Linked DNA regions of Homo sapiens: region 1 is linked to region 2. A link means that fine-mapping ties the variant in region 2 to the expression of a gene that starts in the linked region. Tissue or cell type: putamen. Region 2 holds a variant in brackets; the other region holds the start of a gene. All regions are shown on one strand. Distances are from middle to middle.

Evidence for each region. PIP is the estimated chance that this variant, and not a neighbour inherited with it, causes the effect.
Region 1: VPREB3 starts here. The variant in region 2 is fine-mapped to the expression of VPREB3 in putamen (GTEx, PIP above 0.99). The same link has a PIP of 0.9 or more in nucleus accumbens.

Annotation. Positions count from the first base shown.
Region 1 is chr22:23,752,471-23,757,615 of GRCh38, forward strand. VPREB3 (V-set pre-B cell surrogate light chain 3) reads right to left here and starts at 1,955. Exons shown (of 2, transcript NM_013378.3): 1 at 1,845-1,955; 2 at 273-728. The coding sequence starts at 1,893. The coding sequence ends at 406. RefSeq lists enhancers at 428-1,101, 1,878-2,378 and a silencer at 1,998-2,047.
Region 2 is chr22:23,812,991-23,818,135 of GRCh38, forward strand. SMARCB1 (SWI/SNF related BAF chromatin remodeling complex subunit B1) reads left to right here. Exons shown (of 9, transcript NM_003073.5): 6 at 3,780-3,946. Among named protein-coding and RNA genes, the nearest start is that of DERL3, 23 kb to the right of the region's middle. RefSeq lists enhancers at 2,940-3,441, 3,442-3,943. The variant C/A (reference allele first, on the strand shown) is at 3,138.

The sequences.
Region 1 (5,145 bases), 61 kb before region 2:
ATGCAGAGTTGGGGGCGGCAAGGGCTGGTTCCTTTTTCTCCCTCCGGCTCCTCAGGTCACAGGAAGGTCAGGCTACCAGTTTGAGCCCCCAGGGGGCCATGGTGGGGGAGTCTGGGCCATGCCCCAATAGTCTCAGGTGCTTCCTCTTTGACAACAGTCCCCAGAATCCCCATTCCCCCGCACACTGCTCCCCACCCCAGGAGTGGGTCTTCGACTCCCAGACCCACCACAGTCATTTTTCTCAGCCAGGATCTTATGACCCTCACAATAGCTGTTGTTGACATGTTGAATATTATTAACCCATTTTACAGAGGGGAAGCAAGGCTCAGAGAAAGTTTAAAAGGGACCCAAGGTCAGGGGCAGAAATGGGAGGCAGAGGGGAGGCACCCATCTCACACCCCACCCCTAGGGACTAAAGCCGTAGCCAACAGAGCAGTAGTAATCCGCGTCGTCTTCAGGCTGCACGGGACTAATGGTGAGGACACAGGCATTGTGGGCCTCATCCTTGGCTGCCGAGAATCGATCGGGGATGTCAGCAGGCCGGTGGTGATCCTCCTCCGAGCGGTAGTAGAGGAGATATCGAGGGGCACTGCCTGCCCGCTGCTGGTACCAGGACACACCGTAGTCCCTGATGGTGACGTGCTGGGGGCTGAGCGTGCAGGAGAGTTGAGCCACTTGGCCTGGGAAGACCAGCAGTGCATCCAGCTGGGCCAGGACTGTCTGGGAAACTGCGAGACACAAACCCACTCAGCCTGAGCCCCTTCCCTCCCACCCCTGCCCTGTGAAGGCTTGGTTGGACTCCATGGAGACTCCCAGTCCCAAAGGGCTCATAGCCCAGTGCTATGGGATTAGCAATGAACGGGGTGCAGGAGGCCTGGTTCTGTGTGACTTAGGGTGCCCTATCTGGACCTCCATCTCCCTTTGTGAGTGAGGGGTTTGGAGTTAGCCCCCAAATCTCCATTAGTGCCATATCCTCAAGGATCTGTGTTCAGTTAAAGGCCCAGAGCTCAGAAGGTTGGACTAGCAGCCTCTAGGTCCCTCTGCTACCCACCCACGTTTCTCTGCAGAACTGCACCCCTCTCCCCCACTTCCCCGCCCACTTCACTTCAGCTCTTCCAAACCCTGAATACAGACTAACCACCCCCAGGAACCTCCTGGGCTGTCCCACACATCAACTCAGCCTCAGGCAACTGGCTGCAGGGACCCTCTCAGGGAGGTTAGATTGCCTCAGGCCCTGTGGGGTAGGGACCAACCCACAATAGCTTCCCCTGTGAAAAACTAAGAAGGAGACCCAAAGTCAGAGTCCAGGGCTCTAGTGATCTGGTCATTCACGAATGAGAAAACCAAGGCCCACACAGGGAAGTGATTTGCCCCAGGTCAAGGGCAGAGCTGTCTGAAGCCAGGTCACCCCTCTACCTGAATACGCCTCCCAGCCAGGTGCAGTGGCTCAAGCCTGTAATCCTAGCACTTTGGGAAGCTGAGGTGGGCGGATCACCTGAGGTCAGGAGTTTGAGACCAGCCTGACCAACATGAAGAAACCTTGTCTCTACTAAAAATACAAAATTAGCCAGGCGTGGTGGCGCATGCCTGTAATCCCAGCTACTCAGGACGCTGAGGCAGAAGAATCGCTTGAACCTGGGAGGCAGAGGTGCAGTGAGCCGAGATTGCACCGTTGCACTCCAGCCTGGGCAACAAGAGCAAAACTCCGTCTCAAAAAAAAAAAAAATACCCCTCCCAGGACCTGCCCTACTGTCCCCATCGATTTGCCTCCTTGCAGGGGCCTTCTGGGGCCAGTACTGTTCCCCACCCCACACCCAGGTGACTGAGGCCCAGGAAAGATTCACCTGACAGGAAGGTCCCCATCAGAAGGAAGCTGAGGCACCGGCAGGCCATGGCCAGAGGCAGGGAGGCAGGCAAGTAGAAGTTCTGCAAGGCTATATGCTCCAGGTGCTTTGGGGCACAGGGCTGGGAAGGCCACTGGACCACAACAGAGCATGCAAATCAGCCTATTGACTGAGGAAGGAGGGGCGGTGACTGGGGCCCAATGGCCAAGCCTTTTCTTCCCAAATGTCAGGGTCCTGGCACCACAAGGCCTTCCAAGAATAGGAGCCCAGAAGTCCTCATGTGCAGTTATAGCAGGTGGAAATCTACTTTTTTATTGAGGTACAACTAGCATACAGTAAAGTGCATAAATCTTAAGTGCATAGCTTGATGATTTTATGTATATGTATGTATGCCCACAAGCATGCATGCATGCATGTGCGCGCACACGCACACGCGCGCACACACACACACACACATACACACGCACACACAGACCCCTGCAACCTCCACCCAGATCAGGATTTAGAAAATCTCGGCTGAGGGCGGTGGCTTACGCCTATAATCCCAGCACTTTGGGAGACGGAGGCAGGTGGATCACTTGAGGTCAGGAGTTTGAGACCAGCTTGGCCAACATGGTGAAACTCCATATTTTTTGTACTAAAAATACAAAAATTAGCTGGGCGTGGTGGTGCACACCTGTAGTCCCAACTACTGGAGAGGCTGAGGCAGGAAAATCGCTTGAACCCGGGAGGTGGAGGTTGCAGTAAGCCAAGATTGCTTCACTGCACTTCAGCTTGGGCGACAGAGCGAGACTATGTCTCAAAAAAAAGAAAAGAAAAAAGAACACCTCCATCTCCCCTGAAGGCCCCTCAGTTAATGACATGCACCCTCAAGGGAATCATCATTCTGACTTCTATCACCTTAGATTAGTTTGTGCCTGCTCTAGAACTTTAACTATAAGTGGAATGATAGTGTGCCCTCTTTTGTGCCTGCTTCTTTTGTTGAACATGATGGGAGTGATCCATGTGTGTGCAGCAATATTTCATTCATGCCCATAGCTGTGTGTAATCCATTGTGTGAATGCACTGTAATCAGGTTTTCCATTCTCCTATTGTTAGATATTTGGATGCTCTCCAGTCTTTGGCCATTACAAATACAACTTCTGTGAATGTCTCTGTCGATGTCTTTTGGTGTACTGGTGCACTCATTTGTGCTGGAGAGACACCCAGGAATGGAGCTGCCAGACGGCAAGGAAAGAATACATTTAGCTTTACTAGGTCTGCCAGGGTTCCTGATGTGTTTGTAACAATCTGGTCTTCCACCAGCAGAGTAAGAGAGTTTACTGTGACTTCGCATCCTCGCCAGCCCTTGACATTATCACAACCTTTAATTTGCCAGGATTCCAAGTAGCTGAGGTGGTTTTGAACTTGGGTTTGAATCCCAGCTCCTGCTTTTCTTAACTGCATGACTTCAGCCAAGTTACTTCCCCCCACTGTGCCTCGGTTTTCTCATCTGGAACATAAAGTTAAGCATAATGCCAGCCTGAGGATTGTGAAAATGCAAAGATGGGACCTATTTGCTCAGGGCTGGCCACAGTGGGTGGATTAACCATGTCATTTATTTTCTGTATTCCAGTGCTGTGTAATCTGGGCCCTTGCTGACCATTGAGGGACTAACCCTCCCAGGGTTACCCAGTCCCTATAGATAGTAAATAACTTTTTTTTTTTTTTCTGAGACGGAGTCTCACTCTGTCGCCCAGGCTGGTGTGCAGTGGCGCGATCTTGGCTCGATGCAAGCTCCGCCTCCTGGGTTCACGCCATTCTCCTGCCTCAGCCTCCCGAGTAGCTGGGACTACAGGTGCCCGCCACTGCGCCTGGCAAATTTTTTATATTTTTAGTAGAGATGGGGTTTCACCATGTTAGCCAAGATGGTCTCGATCTCCTGACCTTGTGATCTGCCCGCCTTGGCCTCCCAAAGTGCTGGGATTACAGGTGTTAGCCACCGCGCCCAGCCGATAGTAAATAACTCTTTTTCTTTTTTTTTTTTTTGAGACAGAGTCTCACTCTGTCACCCAGGCTGGAGTGCAGTGGTGCGATCTTGGCTCACTGCAAGCTCTGCCTCCGGGTTGACGCCATTCTCCTGCCTTAGCCTCCCGAGTAGCTGGGACGACAGGCGCCCACCACCATGCCCGGCTAATTTTTTGTATTTTTTAGTAGAGACGGGATTTCACCGTGTTAGCCAGGATGGTCTCAATCTCCTGACCTTGTCATCTGCCCACCTTGGCCTCCCAAAGTGCTGGGATTACAGGTGTGAGCCACTGCACCTGGCCAACTCTTTTTCTTTTTTATCAGACAGAGTCTCGTTCTGTCCCCCAGGCTGGAGTACAAAAGCACCATCTCCACTCACTGCAACCTCCGCCTCCCGGGTTCAAGCGATTTTCCTGCCTCAGCCTCCCAAGTACCTGGGATTACAGGCATGCGCCACCAGGCCCAGCTAATTCTTTTTGTATTTTTAGTAGAAATGGGATTTCACCATGTTGGCCAAGATAATTTCGGTCTCCTGACGTCAAATGGTCCACCTACTTCGGGCTCTCAAAGTGCTGGGATTACAAGCTTGAGCCACCTCACCCAGCCATGATAGTAAATAACTCTTCTGAAAGCACGCTTTTCAAATGCAAGTCAACTAATCCCAACCCCCTCAACTCCCTCCTTAATCTGCTCTTATACTCCACCTGCCCTAATCTCTCCAGGGCCACGCACCAGACAACTAGGGACAGCCCATGCCCCAGAATCCACTTTAATTATTCAGTCCTAAGCCTGCCCAGCGTTGGAAACCACAATAGAGGCCCTTGCCCACAGTTCCTCCCTCTCCCTCTGCCTGCCCATCAACTGTGGTGCTTCCTGTGTGGCCCACCTTGGTGTACTCCCTGTTTTAGGGGAACTTTGAGTAACAAGCTATCTTTTCTTTTTCTTTTTTTTTTTTTTTTTGAGACGGAGTTTCGCTGTTTGTTGCCCAGGCTGGAGTGCAATGGTGCAATCTCAGCTCACTGCAACCTCCGCCTCCCAGGTTCAAGTGATTCTCCTGCCTCAGCCTCCCAAGTAGCTGGGATTACAGGCATGAACTGCCACGCCCGGCTAATTTTTTTTGTTTTTTTTTTTAGTAGAGACGGGGTTCACCATGTTGGTCGGTTTCACCATGTTGGTCAGGCTGGTCTCGATCTCCTGACCTCATGATCTGTTCGCCTTTGCCTCACAAAGTGCTGGGATTAAAGGCGTGAGTCACTGCGCCTGGCTACAAACTATGTTTTCAATGGCACTTCCC
Region 2 (5,145 bases):
GATAGCTGGGACTACAGGTGCCCTGCCACCACACCCAGCTAACTTTTTGTATTTTTAGTAGAGACGGGGTTTCACAGTGTTAGCCAGGAATGTCTCGAACTCCTGACCATGTGATCCACCCGCCTCGGCCTCCCAAAGTGCTGGGATTACAGGCGTGAGCCACAGAGCCTGGCCTTCTGTTGCTAGCATTTAATAGTGAAAGGTTGCATGCTTTCTGCCAGAGACCAGGAACAAGCCAAATATGTCTGCTGTCACTATTCTTATTCAACATAGTGTTGGAAGTTCTAGCTAATCCAGTAAGCTGAGAAAAGGAAATAAAAGACGTGTAGATTGGAAAGGAAGAAATAAAATCCTATTTGCAGATGACATGATTGTCCGTGTAGAAAATCCCAAGGGATCTACAGAAAACTTGGAGAACTAATAACTGAATTCCCCAGGGTCACAAGATACAAGGGATACAAGGTAAACATGCAGAAATCCATTTTATTTCTATATGCCATTAATGAGTACCTAGACACAAATTAAAAATACATTACCATTTATCATCACTCAATAAAAAAAGGAATACTTAGGTATAAATCCAACAAAACATTTACAGGACTTATATACCAAAAACTATAAAACACTGACGAAAGTAATGAAGGAAGACCTAAATAAGTAGACATATCATATTCATGGATTAAAAGACTCAAGATGATGTCAGTTTTCCCCAAATTGATATACAGATTTAATGCAATTTCTGTGAAAATCCCAGCAAGATTTTTTTTGTAGATAAGATGGTTCTAAGATTTATATGGAAAGGCAAAGAAACTAAAATAGCTAAAGCAATTTATTTATTATTATTATTATTTTTTTTTGAGATGGAGTTTTGCTCTTTTGCCCAGGCTGGAGTGCAGTGGCATGATCTCTGCTCACTGTAACCTCCACCTTCCGGTTTCAAGCGTTTCTCCTGCCTTAGTCTCCCGAGTAGGTGGGATTACAGGTGCCCGCCACCATGCCTGGCTAATTTTTGTATTTTTAGTAGAGACAGGGTATTACCATGTTGGCCAGGTTGGTCTCAAACTCCTGAGCTCAGGCAGTCCGCCTGTCTCAGCCTCCCAAAGTGCTGGGATTACAGGCATGAGCCACCACACCCGGCCAGCAATTTTGAAAAACAGTAAAGTGGGAGTAATCATTCTACCCAATCTCAAGGCTTACTATATAGCTACGATAATCAAGGCTGTGTGGTATTGGTGGAGTGACATACCGTGATGGAACAGAATTGAGAATCCAGAAACAGACCCACACAAACGTGCCCTCCTGATTTTTACAAAGATGCAAATGTGATTCAATGGAGGAAAGACAGCTCATTCAACAAAATGGCACTGGAGCAATTAGACAATCATAGGCAAGTAGGCTGGCACAGTGGCTTACGTCTGTAATCCTAGCACTTCGGGAGGCTGAGGTGGGCAGATCACCTGAGATCACGAGTTCGAGACCAGCCTGACCAAGATGGAGAAACCTCGTCTCTACTAAAAATACACAATTAGCTGGGCGTGGTGGCGCATGCCTGTAACCCCAGCTACTCGGGCGGGTGAGGCAGGAGAATCGCTTGAACCTGGAAGGCAGAGGTTGCTGTGAGCCGAGATCACGCTGTTGCAATCCATCCTGGGCAACAAGAGTGAAACTCTGTCCCAAAAAAGCAACAACAACAAAAAAGGCTGGGCACAGTGGCTCACGCCTGTAATCCCAGCACTTTGGGAGGCTGAGGTGGGCGGATCACCTGAGGTCAGGAGTTTGAGACCAGCTTGACCAACGTGGAGAAACCTCGTCTCTACTAAAAATACAAAATTAGCCGGGCATGGTGGCGCATGCCTGTAATTCCAGCTACTTGGGAGGCTGAGTCAGGAGAATTGCTTGAACCCAGGAGGCCGAGGTTGCTGTGAGCCAAGATCACGCCGTTGCGCTCCAGCCTGGGCAACAAGAGCAAAACTCCGTCTCAAAAAAAAAAAAAAAAGGCAAAAGACAGGAAGAGAAATTTCACTAAAGAAGTTATATAGGTGGCAAATAAACATTGAAAAGCTTTTCCACATTGTTAGCCTTAGGGAAATGCAGATTAAAATTACACTGTTATTCCACATCTTTAAAAAGTGGTGACAGCATCAGATGCTGGCGAGGATGTGGAGGAACTGGGTCACTCACAAGCTGCTGATGGGAATGTAAAGTGGCTGGAAAACTGCCCTAGAAAACAGTGTGGCAATTTCTGTTAAAAACTAAACATGCGGCCAGGCGTGGTGGCTCACACCTGTAATCCCAGCACTTTGGGAGGCCGAGGCGGGCGGATCACGAGGTCAGGAGATCGAGACCATCCTGGTTAACATGGTGAAACCCTGTCTCTTCTAAAAATACAAAAAATTAGCTGGGCGTGGTGGTGGCTGCTTGTAGTCCCAGCTACTCGGGAGGCTGAAGCAGGAGAATGGCGTGAACCCGGGAGGCGGAGCTTGCAGTGAGCCGATATAGCGCCACTGCACTCCATCCTGGGCGACAGAGCGAGACTCCGTCTCAAAACAAACAAAAAACTAAACATGCAACCAGTGTACCTTGAGCATTTATCCTGGAGAAATGAAGACATGTTTATACAATAGCCTACACGTGGATGTTCATAGCAGCTTTATTTATAATAGCGGGAAACTGGAAATGATCTAGATAGCCTTCAGTGAGTGAATAGTTAAAGTGAGGCCCCTTCGTACCACAGAATGTCACTTGGCAGTAAAAGGAAGTGACAATCTGGATGAATCACTGGATACAGATACAGTCCTCTATCTTGTCTTTTTTGGAGGAAACTGGGCGCAGTGTGCATGGAATTTCTCTGTGTTGTTTCTTGCATCTGTACATGAATCTACAATTACTTAAAAATTTTAAAATGCTCTGGGCAGTGTATTCACTGGGTGTTTACCCCGTGCACCTGAGGTTCCTGCTGTTGCTGCCCCGCAGGCTGTTAGGATGCTGGTCTCCAGCGTGTCTTTAGGGCAGGGAGGAGATAGTGGGGCTGTGGTCTGTTAGGCCGACCTGCTTCTTGATGATGGAATCCTACTGTCTGCTCTGAGGCAATTTTTCTTGGCTTTTTCAGCTTATTCCTGCAAGGCGTCTTGTCAGTA[C/A]GGTCTGGGTGGAGCAGGGAGAGAATGTTGACTGAGAGGACCTTGCTGAGGTCTGGCTGGCCACAGATGGTCCCTGTGAGCTCCCATCTGGTACAATTCCTTTTCCAGGATCCGGGATCTGTAGGGACCTCCACGCTTGTGACCTTGTTGAGGCCCTGCTGCTGCTACTGCAGTCACAGGCCTGGAAATCGCTGTGGCTTGGCACAGTGTGTTTTGCTCACATGAGGCCTGGTATTGGGCCAGCCTCTGTGCCATCACGTCTGCCACCAGTTCAGCACAGAGGGGAGTAGAGAGATGGCACGCAAGCTTTGATGTGCCTTTGCTGGCCTCGCCTGGATCATCTCATTAGTTGGGATAATCTCATGCGCCCACCCAGCTATGAGTGGAATGAGGGAAGTGTTTATGGCCATGACCACCCCCAGGGCATGGAGCAGGAGGTCTGTGCAGGATGAGGGCTGGGGGCCTGCTAGTCATGTGCTTCCTCCTTCCACTCCCAGTTTCCAGGAAGGCCACCCCCAGTGCCCTGGTTGTCCTCTCCTGCATCCGGAGATGTTTGGCTTCAAAGAAGAAGGGGTGAGGGAGGCCGGTCCATGCCCAAGCATGGTGCAATCTCTTGGCATCCCTTCCCTCTCCTGATTTCAGAGAAGTTGATGACGCCTGAGATGTTTTCAGAAATCCTCTGTGACGATCTGGATTTGAACCCGCTGACGTTTGTGCCAGCCATCGCCTCTGCCATCAGACAGCAGATCGAGTCCTACCCCACGGACAGCATCCTGGAGGACCAGTCAGACCAGCGCGTCATCATCAAGGTAGGTGACTTCTCACCCAGCACTGGAGCCTTCCTGGCCCTCAGGGTGGGTGTCATCATGGAGCACTGAGGGTACACCAAGGCCTCAGCAGAAGCCCGTCTTTGGGTTCCATATCATCTGGAAAGTCATAACACCTGGCTTTGCTCCCTGCAATCCCCCAGGAAGGGCATAGGCTGAGTTCTCATAGTAAAGTGTTATATTCCGGACACATTCAGGGGGTGTCTCTGAGGCACTGCCAGGCTCTGAGCAAAGCCCGGAGGTCTAGAGGAGGTGAAGGCAGCTGATTGGCTGGGCCAGGCTGAGTGCTCCAGGGGGGCCTAGTAACCCAATAAGATGCTGCCTTAGTGGCCATATTACAGGTGAAGAGGTGGGCACGTGGAGAGCTGAGATCACCTGCGGAAGTTGCAAACTGGCCAGTTGAGAAATGGTGAGGCTGGCGATTGGGCGCAGGCCTGCACCCTGCAGAGCCTATAGCATAATCCTTGCTGTGCTGAGCCGCCACTGCCAGACTATGCCTTGAGGGTGAGGGGAGCTTTGAAAATAGGAAGATATGAGAAGTAGGTGAAATTGGCACATGTGATGACCCTAAAAAGGTCAGTGGTTTGGTTAGATCTGATGCTGTGCCTTTGGCTTCCATTTTAGGAAAACATTGATGTATAAAAATAAGAGCCATGTTACAAAGGGTTCCTGAAAATAGTCTTTGGGGTCGAGGAGCCTCGGGAGGGATGCCTCCTGTGACTGAGGGATGCCTCTGCCCCGTGCACCAGATGGAGCCTGGGCCGACTTCTTCCCACTGTGGTTCTCCGTGGCACTTTACTAAGATTTTGGAAAATAACGTGGGGGAATCACCAGCAACTTCCTCTGTGGTCCCCCAAGTAACAAACAACTAAATATCTTATTTAGTTAGTCAAGACAGTCTCACTGTGTCGCCCAGGCTGGAGTGCAGTGGCTCGATCTTGACTCATTGCAACCTCCACCTCCCGGGTTCAAGCAATTCTCCTGTCTCAGCCTCCTGAGTAGCTAGGATTACAGTTGCCCGCCACTAAGCCAGGCTAATTTTTGTATTTTTAGTAGAGACAGGGTTTCACCATATTTGTCAGTCTGGTCTCAAACTCCTTACCTCAGGTGATCCACCCACCTCAGCCTCCCAAAGTGCTGGGATTACAGGCATGAGCCACCGCACCTGGCCGAAATACTTT